Linked DNA regions of Homo sapiens: region 1 is linked to region 2. Evidence: fine-mapped expression QTL. A gene starts in region 2. The other region holds a variant in brackets. All regions are shown on one strand. Distances are between the middles of the regions.

Evidence for each region. PIP is the estimated chance that this variant, and not a neighbour inherited with it, causes the effect. A credible set is the group of variants that fine-mapping cannot tell apart.
Region 1: its variant is the best candidate, but not a certain one, in a credible set for the expression of DENND4A in whole blood (INTERVAL, PIP 0.63).

What each region holds. Positions count from the first base shown.
Region 1 is chr15:65,637,334-65,642,833 of GRCh38, forward strand. It overlaps SLC24A1 (solute carrier family 24 member 1), which reads left to right. Exons shown (of 10, transcript NM_004727.3): 3 at 795-848; 4 at 2,262-2,370. Among named protein-coding and RNA genes, the nearest start is that of SLC24A1, 18 kb to the left of the region's middle. The variant A/ACTGAGGC (reference allele first, on the strand shown) is at 2,237.
Region 2 is chr15:65,789,520-65,794,519 of GRCh38, forward strand. DENND4A (DENN domain containing 4A) reads right to left here and starts at 2,774. Exons shown (of 33, transcript NM_001320835.1): 1 at 2,491-2,774. LOC105370866 (a long non-coding RNA gene) reads left to right here and starts at 2,954. Exons shown (of 3, transcript XR_932372.2): 1 at 2,954-3,253. RefSeq lists a silencer at 2,331-2,660 and enhancers at 2,662-3,627, 2,851-3,470.

The DNA of each region.
Region 1 (5,500 bases), 150 kb before region 2:
GGAGAGAGGTATTGTAATGAGCTGAAGGGAGGGTGGGAGGGGGCATGGAAGGGGCATTTGGGAAAGCTTCATACAAGAATTCACCCTGAATTTTATAAAAAATGGATAAGATTTGAGTAGGCAGAAAGGAATGGAGATGGCATTTTAGGCAGGAGAAAAAGGCATGAACAAGGGAACAAGACTTAGAATAGATTAAGTGTATTTAGAGGACAGTTGATTTTCATTTATTCATTCATTTAATAAATATTGAGCTCTTGCTAAGTGCTGGGCAGTGTTCTCATGCTGGCCACACAGTGGTGAATAAAACAGTCTACCTTCAAGATGCTAGTGGGGCAGTCAACTTATTTCCACAAATAAATTGGGGAAAGTGCAGTGAAGGAAAAGAACAGGGGTCTATAAAAGAATTATACATGGCTTCCCAGAGGAAGGTGACACTTAAGTGGAGACCAGAAGCCTGAGGAGGGAAAGAGCATTACGGACAGGGGGCGAGGGGCCCTGTGATGAGGGTTTTGAGGTGGGTGAAGAGGATGGCACATTTCAGAAACCCAAAGACAGTTGGTGCCACTGGACTATGGTGAGTGGACAGATTCGACTGGGGGTACTGCATTGCAGGCTGAAGCCAGATTATAGAAGGTCAGACTGGAGGGATGGAACATGTTGAAACATTTTCTGAGACCAGGTTATCTCGGAGTGTGTTTCTGTATTTCAACCTGAGGACTTCCGTGGAGAAAGGGATGTAGGGAGAAAGTGAGGGTCTCGCCACAACATCTCGTGACTCCTCTCCCTGTTTGCAGCCGGGCGATGGGGCCATTGCGGTGGATGAGCTACAGGATAACAAGAAGCTGAAGGTGGGTGCCGTATGGAGTCTGCCCAGTGGGGACACTGCAGGGTCTCAGTGGATGATCACAGGCCCAGGGTATTGTGGCCCTGTGCTGGGGACCCTGGCTGTGCTCAGGCCTAGGAAACTCCTGGGAGCGCTGCCAGGGTGAGGCAAGGGAGGAGAGGGCTCTTTTTCTGAGAACTCTCACCTCTAGATGGCCTTTGAGGAGGTGCTAGTTTGGGAGCTAAGTCTGGAATGTTACAGTCCTCTCTGCCATTAGCTTGCTGTGTGACCTTGAGCTTCAGATTCTGCATCTGTAAAATGACTGTTTGAACTAGATGAATTCAAGTCCTAATGTACAGCCCAACATTGTATGATTGATATAAAAGCCAGATTACCTATGGCTTTGGAATGCCCCAGAACTAAGAGAAAGATAGCAGGGGAACTGGAGAGGACAGGAGTCTGAGGTTTCTGAAAAACTGTGTCTTAGCTGTTTATAGTCTATGAAGTATCTGGAAAGAATTATGGGGAACTTTGAAAGGAGTTCCGAACTTGAACCTAAAGAACCTCCCCCATCCAAAGAAAATCTCTGACTTGTGGTGAAGTAGTGTCACCACAACCACTAGATGGCAGAAGAGTTCAGATCAGAGGGATGAGGGGGAAGAAAGGAGGGAGGAAGAAGAGAAGGGAGGGAGGACTCCGCAAGTGTGGAAGCGTTGTCTTTGGATGTTCCATTGTAAATCAGATGATATTTCTATATGTGTCACTATGAATAAGTGTCACATCTGTGTCTGTACAGTATAGATGTGTGTGTATGTGTGTACCTGTGAGGGTCTCTGAGCACATGGGCAGAAAAAAAACCAAAACAAAACTGAAAACTGGGAATCAGAAGACCACAGAAGACCTGGGTACCAGTCTGACTCTTTCATTTACTTCCTGCATGACCTTGGCTTAGGCACCTAGCTTCTTTGAGTTTTCCTTTCCCTTTCCATAGATGGGGATCATAGCTTTGCTTGTCTCTGGGAGTGGGGCAATGATAAAACGTGATAATGCTCTTTGTGGACTGTAAAGGGCTGTAGCCATGTGCAGTGGGTCTGTCTGTGTGGTGTGTGGGTGAGGGAGTGTTTCTGAGGGTGTACTTGCAGGGATGTGCAAACCCTTCATAACGTGATATTCCTAATACACCAGGTTGCTCCCTGTGGAGACGTTGGGAAATTATTCAGTACCTAAAACAAAATAGTCCTGGAAGAGCTGAGGGGAGGCTGAGAAAGAAAGTAGTGTAACTCTTCTGGTTGGAGGTGGAGGAAGAGGGGAGGTCAGGATAAGGCATCTGTGCTTTCTCCCTGATCTTTATGGGAAAGAGGCAAGGTTAGTGATGCCCTCGTGTGGTTCCTCCCCTGGCTTGGACAGGGGCCC[A/ACTGAGGC]CTGTGCGGCTCTCCTCTTGCTCAGCTCCCGTCCTTGCTGACCCGAGGGAGCAGCTCGACCTCTCTGCACAACAGCACCATCCGCAGCACCATCTACCAGCTCATGCTCCACAGCCTGGACCCCCTGAGGGAAGGTAAGCAAGGCCTCTCCAGACCTTTGTGGTTTGCCCCATCCACTCCTTCCCTCCTGCAGCTGGAGAAGAACTGGGACCTGAAAATCCTAGAGGCAGTGAGGAGGGAGTGGGAAGAGATAATAAGCAGAGGAAAGTAGTAAAAGTCAGACAGTCTGGGAAAGAGGGTAGAGACCAAGACAGGGGACTCACCAAGAGAGGGCAACAAAGAACATGGAGGCTAAGGTCCTTGGGTATCCACATCCCACTTCCCTGCCTCTGTCCCTCCCTGTAAAATGAAGGCATTAACCTGCAGTTAGGCTGTGAGTACCATGTGCTCTGCACAGATTTGGGATGGGGCTGCCCTGCAAAGCCCACTGCCCAGGAGTCAGCCCCAGTGTTCCATGGAGAGTGTCTAGCCAAGCAGCTCAGCCCAGGCTGACTGGCCTGGGCTGCTTCTGGGGACGCCTCTTGTAGGGTCCCAAAGCCCAGAAGTTCTTAGTGGCACTTCCTTTTGCTTTATATTCAACTCTGGAGTCCTAGGAAACCTGCCAACTCCTCCCCAAGTCTGGAATCCCAAAGGACACCCTGGAAACTGCCAGGACCCTTTTAAGGGTGACGAGGGTAAGAGCAGGGTCCAAAGTATAGTGGGGGCTGTTGTCCAATTTGACAAATGGTGGCAGCGGCTGAGATTCTCACTGTCCACCTTACCACATCCTGCCTTCTGCTTCTCTTCCCCAGAGAGCTGCCCCCAACATGCATCTCAGACCCCTAAAGGGCACTTCTCAGCTACTCTCCTGCTCTCCTGGAGCCTCCCCATCTCTGGGGCTCTGGTGCAGAACCGGAACCCAGCCAGGAGGCCCATCAAGGAAATGCTAGCCTTTGTGCAAAAGCCAAGGGCTTGGACTGCAGTTGGGCAGGAGGGCTGAGGGCTGAGCTGAATATGACACCACAGAATGATCCATTGAGTCCCAGGGAGCACTCTGACTGACCTTTCTGGCTCAAGGACAAATTTTCGGGGCTCAGAATTTTCTTTAGGCTCTGAAGTCCTTTTCAGAGACAATATTGGGTTGTCAGTTGTTTTAAAAAAAAATACCAGCCAGGCATGGTGGCTCACGCCTGTAATCCTAGCATCTTGGGAGGCCGAGGCAGGTGGATTGCCTGAGCTCAGGAGTCCAAGACCAGCCTGGGCAACACGGTGAAACCCCATCTCTACTAAAATACAAAAAAAATTAGCCAGGCGTGGTGGCAGGCGCCTGTAATCCCAGCTACTTGGGAGGCTGAGACGGGAGAGTCACTTGAACCCGGGAGGTGGAGGTTGTAGTGAGCCGAGATTGCACCGCTGCACTCCAGCCTAGGCTGCAGAGTGAGACTCCACCTCAAATAAATAAATAAATAAATAATTTTTAAAAAGGCTGGACACAGTGGCTCACGCCTGTAATCCCAGTACTTTGGGAGGCCAAGGTGGGCGGATCACGAGGTCAAGAAATCGAGAGCATCCTGGGCAACATGGTGAAACCCTGTCTCTACTAAAAACACAAAAATTGGCACACACCTGTAGTCCCAGCTACTTGGGAGGCTGAGGCAGGAGAATCGCTTGAACCTGGGAGGCAGAGATTGCAGTAAGCCAAGATCGTGCCACTGCACTCCAGCCTGGTGACAGAGCGAGACCATCTCTAAATAAACAAACAAACAAACAAACAAATAAATAAATAAACCATACTGTGAAAAGCTGCATCAAAGACAAGTGATGAAACCTTCCTTAGGAATTCCTCAAGGTAAGAACAGAGAGAGAGAGAAAGGGAGAAAAAAATTAATCTAAGCTGCTGATGGAGCTGTTAGGAAAAAAAGAGAGAGAAAAGAAAAAATAAAAAGCAATTCCTCAAGGTAAACCTCAGCAGACATGTGAGAGAGGCCATCCCCAAATGTCAGCTCTAGAAAAATAGTACCTCTGGGGTTTGCAGAATGGAAGCTGCAGCCCCTGACAGCCTCTGGTGATGAGTGCCGGGGTGCTCTGGCCAGGGCCCCATGAGGAAAGCTGTATCTCTGGGTCATCAGTGGCTACTCCCAGAGGAATCACTGACTCTAGCAAAGTCCTGATGATAAAGACCTCTTGGGTGGGACTGGAGGGCCCCCAGCTGGGCATCTCCATGACCAACAGCCTCCAGCTGGCCTACTTGTCCTAACAGGATTATGTGATGTTCAGGCCAGGCTGAGGTCAGAGGAGATTGATGCTAAAGCCATGATCCGGCCCTGCTGAGAGGGGAGAGGCATGTGAGGAAACGAGTGCCCAGGAGCCAGCAGCAATCATCCCAGGGAGGACAAGCATGCTGGTACATTGTCTCTGGGTGTCTTTGGGGCATGGAATGGCTCTCGTGACTGCAGATGTCCTCTGGGATTCAGTCGTGCTCAAGAGCCCAGCCTGATTCTACACCCTGAGATGACATATGGGAGGGGTGGGGACCATGCAGGGCTGTGATGAGGGCCTTTGTTCCCCAGGCTCTCTAGATGCACATTTGTGTTTTTGTATGCTGTTTCCAGATGGCCGTCCAGATGTTTCCACTCTTTACAGGTGTTCCAGCTCTTTCCACAGAGCTGATCCGTGGAAAAGATGTTTCCTGGGGTCTGAACTCTCACCTTCCCTGTGAAGGGGCTTATCCTCTCCAGGGTCCCATGGCTTTTCTGGTGATTTCACTTGGATGTGTGTGAGACAGGGTGGGGGAGACCCTGCAGCTGACCTGTTTTCCTCAGTAACATGGGAAGTGAGAGTCTAGGCTGTGATGAGGATGAGAAGGAAAGGGGGAAGCTTGTGTTTATGGCTAGCCCTTCCAGCAACAGCCAGCAGATAATCTCAGTGCCAAGACCAGAACCAAGGGAGCCCTCCTGTGACAGCAGCTACACATTGCTCAACAGAAGACTTCAGGGTTTGATTAGTGCCAAGGGGGCACTGGGTTTGTCTGGACGAAGGTGTGTTGGCCCCCCACCTCTCAGTTCTGATGAGGACCCAGGCCCACCAGGCCACTTCGAGGGACCACACATGTCATAGTGGCTCTACCCATGGAGCTTATTGCCAGAGCCAGCTGCAGCTGAACTAACTGAGAGTTTAGGAGACAGGTAGAGAGGAGGAAATTCCAGACCCATTTATCTGTTTCCT
Region 2 (5,000 bases):
AAAAGGAAGAAAAATGTATCAGCTATTCTCAGTCACTCTTCTTCTACCTGTGGTAGGAAAAAGGAAAAATCCCACAAAGATAAGTCTCTGACATCAGAGAAGGCAAGAATAACAAGTCAATTTTCCTGCTAGAGCAACTTTTGTTTTCCACCTAGAACAACGCACCATCAATTTAAGTAGGAATAGCACAAGGTTTATTATATACCAAACAACTCTATCTGCATCAGTGCTTTAACTAGGTTTTTGTAGGACATAGAATGCTTTGAAAAATTCTGCAAACAACAAAATATAATGTAACTAATATCACTCAGTGGAAAACCAAGTTTTATAATAGCAGTTATAAGAGTAATAACTGGCCGGGTGCGGTAGCTCACGCCTGTAATCTCAGCACTTTGGGAGGCCAAGGCGGGCAGATTGCTTGGGCTCACGAGTTCAAAACCAGTCTGGGCAACATGGCGAAACCCCGTCTCAAAAAATACAAAAATTAGCCAAGCACGGTGGTGCACGCCTGTAGTCCCAGCTACTTTTATTTTACAATTCTATTAATCCCAGCTAATTTTATTTTACAATTCTGCCATAATTTTTTTAATGAATTAATAAATGTCATGTAGTCTCTTCTTCTAGCCTCCCAATTATACTAAATACTATTCAAGTTACCAGAAATAGGACAACAGTTCCAGGAACTTGAGAATCAATAACTCTTTAAACCAGTGGTAATTCATGTGGAAAAGTTCAGAACAAATCAGCATCAACTTCCTGGCTCTCTTGCACAGACAAAAAATTCATATTGCTTCACCAATTTTCAAAAATGTAAATTTGTGTATATAAGTTTAAAACTTGGACCAAAAGTTATCTACATTTATTCCCAATTTGCGACTGGTATCAAGATCAATTAACTTTCTCAGCAAGTACACTGTTATAAAATTCCACAGTGATCCCAGAATGGAAGGGGCTTAAAAAATAATATAAAACAAAAATTAAACTCCACAGTGAAGTAGGTCTATGTTTAATCATTCAGAAAAAGAAAATTATGTAACATATTATATATAATGATGATGATAACATATGCTGTTCTGGACTCCTACTGAGAGCTGTGGTTCAAAGGGAAATCGTGAAAATAAAGTAAAAATTGCCGAAAATGTTTAATTCTGCCCAAAACAGTTTCCAAAAAAGAAGCCAAATATAATATTTTATTTTAAGTTCAAACAGGGTTCAAACAGCTCAGAAATTTTGTATACTTAAGTTTTCAGAAGTCGAATCCCAGAACCGCTATCAACATAAACTGAATAACTTGCTCAAGAGTCCTTACTTATTACCCAATCTTAGGTCCCCCAGAATACTTCTTAAAATAATCCCAAATGTACTACAATAGATTAGCGTAACCGGGGCTACGCTGTTTACAGGTGTCTCCACCTCCTCCCCCAAGGAGAGAAGAGGTATACTAGGGTAAACAGAAAATAGAAGGAGACTATATACACACCAAATAACAGCTTGTAATCTTCTAAGACTTCTTTTACATTCGGGCTATTCTTTTCATTAACGTATAATACATTTTAAAGAATAACATATTCACAGAGTAATACAATTTCTGCCCTCACGGGTCTCTAGCTGGCTGACACGCGTTTTCTCCTCAAATAAATACATGCCTGTTGACTGATGCCTGTCCTGCTGTTGCAAACAAGAAATAACTGTCCTATAAGACAAAAACCTCTCTCTACGGTTCTAGGCGTAACCATACGTTTGAATTAAAAGCACATTGGAACAACAACAACAATCTTCCAGCACATCTGTCATTTAAAAGCACGATAATGAAAAGCTGTCGCTGCGACCCAATTTTAGGTCACAAGCTTTTTACTGTTTTTCCTGCCCCCCACCTCCAGAAAACAATAAACTTCAAAGGGAATGGTGGTAACCAGGAACAGTTCCCTTCCCCCACCACACACCCCCCCAAAAAGACTAGAAAAAAAACTGGTCAACTTGGACGCTGGCCGCGCTCACGCAGAACCCGTGCCCGCGGGCCGGGGAAGGCTGAACAGACCCTGGGAGGAAAAGTGGGCCTGCAGGCACCCCGGGCTCCCCCCGCCGCCTGTCTCAGATACCGAGCAGGTGGGATTCCGGGAAGCCACCTCCGACTTACGTAACGGGCTTGTCAAAATCCCAGATCCAGGACCTCCCCCTCCCCGCCCCCACTCCCAAATAACAACAGCCCCAGGCCAGCCTGGAATAGAAAATCTGGAATGAAAACACAGGAGCCCCCCACGCGTCCGACGCAGAGGCGCGGGTGCTACTCTCAGCACCGCCGCGCCATCCCGGGGCGGACCGAGCCGCGGAGCACCTCCCGGATCTCAGGAGCTCTCGGGCGGAGATCTCGGCCATCCGTGCCTCCTCCCCGAACCCACCCGCCCCGCTCCCGCGCCCCCGGCTGTCACCTCTCCGGGCCGTGACAGCTCCACCTGCCACCGCTGCCCGGGTCGCCGCCCCCGCACTCACCACCCAGCTGGCTCCCGTGCGAGCAGCGGATCGAGCTCGGAGAGCGGCGCCGGAATCCCGCACGCGCGGTAGCGGAACACGAGGGGCTGAATGCCGCGGCGCTCTGAGCCCGCTTAGCTCATCCCCAGCCCGGCGCTCCGCCCTTCGCGGCACCCCCGCCCGCCCGCCCAGGCCTGCCGTCTCAGTCAGACGGGACTCCCCCTCCCCTCGCGGCCGCCACTGCCTCCGCCTCTTTCTCCGACTCTAGCCTCCGCGGCCACCGCGACCGGCGCCATCTTGGCAATGACGGAAGGGGCGGGGGCGGGAATCACGCCCGCGAGCACCAATCGAAGGCCGGATCTGGCCCGAGTGGGAGGAGAGGGCCGAGTTGAGGGTCGTGGGGTCCTAGCGCCAAACTGATAATGGGGCGGTGAAGGTGGGCGGGACTAAGTCGCCTTAGTCCGTGACGTGCGGTGTAGTTGGGGAAACGCACCGTGGTTCCCCGTCGGGTCAGGAGATCCCGAGCCCCAGGCTGGCGTGGGCGAAGCGTACAATCCCTTCACCTTTCGTCACCCAGAGGCACAAGAATCCAGTTCGCGCCAACTGACCTGTTTCTTCCTTCCTCCCCGGCACTCTGGGAGTCCTGAGATTGCCTTGCTCGGTTCGTCTCAGACTTGCTAGATCTGAGCAGCTGCTGCTCCTCCACCAAGGGTGCTCACATTCTCCAGGAAACTCCCTTAAGGGTTAGCAACCGCCGAGTAGGTTTCGGTCCCAAGATAGAAAGGTAAAGCGGGGAATTCAGGGGGTTTCTCCGAAAAGTACGTTGATGAAACAGCTATTGTTGACTGACGGGGTGTCGATTACTTTGGATTAATTGGATACGGCCTACTTAAACCTGACTGTGGCTCTCCACCATTGATGGCTGTTGACAGATGAGGTTAATAAAGCTTGATTACCCCCATGGGGTTGCTCGGGAGTTAAATTCTATAGTACCTGTGAAGTACTTAGTATAGTGCTTGAAAGTACTCAATAAATGTTAGACATTATTCCATGGACAAATGAAAGAAGAAACAGGACCCCCAAAATCCCTCTGCTTTAAAGTCAACTTTTCCTAAATTGCATAGCCTTTTACTAACCAAGTTTACAACTTTATTTCCTACCTCCAGTTCTTTCATTGTATTCATTCATTCAGTCAACAAACATCCATACAGAGGGTGCACAGTGGTGAGGGAAACAGAAAACCTTTGCCTTCAGGAAACTGCAGTTTAGTGGGAGAAGAGGGACAATAAAAAAGTACTTAAGCACATTTTAAGGGGAAACATGCTATAAAGGTTAGAAAAATAACTGAGGCCAGGCGCCTTTGCTCATGCCTGTAATCCCAACGCTTAGGGAGGCCGAGGCAAGAGGGTCAGCTTGAGCTCAGAAGTTCAAGACTAGCCTGGCAAAATGGCGAGAACCCTGTCTCCACCAAAAATACAAAAAATTAGCCGGGCGTGGTGGCGTGCGCCTGTGGTCCCAGCTACTTGAGAGGCTGAGGTGGGAGGATCGCTTGAGCCCCAGAGCCGGAGGCTGCAGTGAGCCGAGATTGTGCCACTGCACTCCAGCCTGGGTGACAGAGCAAGATTTTGCTTTAAAACAAAACAAAACAATCGAGTTGCATACTTTAAATATATGTAGTCCTCTGTATGTCAGTTAAAGCTGTAAAAAAAGACTTGTTTTTGACACAGAGTCTTGCTATGTTGCCCAGGCTGGAGTGCAGTGGCCTGATCACGGCTTACTACAGCCTCCCTCCCAGGCTCAATTGATCCTCCCACCTCAGCCTCTGGAGTAGCTGGGACTGCAGGTGCCCACCACCACACCCAGCAAATTTTTCTGTTTTTTGTAGAGACTATGTCTCACTATGTTGCCTAAGGCCGGTCTTGAATTCCTGGGGTCAAGTGATCCACCCACCTCAGCCTCCCATAGTGCTGGGTTTACAGGCATGAGCCATTGTGCCCTACCTTAAAAAGCTTTTTTTAAAGTCCAGTTGGGAACCCTCCCAATTCTTTACCCATTGGACACAGATTTAGCCTTTCATTAGTTTTAAGTGTTGCTAGACGTATCAGGTCAATTCCTCTTTAAGGAGTAGCTTGGCATATCAAAATATTCCACTAGCAGCAAAAGCACTCTTTTAGTTGGTTATACATGTATATGTGCATATATATATATATATACACACAAATATTTTCATCTACAGAGTACCAATTAAAATGTTATATAGTTGCATGTAGCATACACAATGAGATTCTAAAACCTTTCAAAAGTTTAAAAGGCGTGAAGGTTTTTTTAATCAGAGAAAATAGCTTCTTAAAGAACAATATTGATAAACAGTAGAAAACCAATACGCAGCATTTGACTGTGTACCCAGGAAGTATCGTACCTCAGAGCCCCCCTTAACAGTCATATCAGGAGTCCTCTCAACACTCCAGGCATATGTGACTATAGTCACAGTTAAACCTAAACCCTAGATGTGATTTGGGCAAGGGATTCTA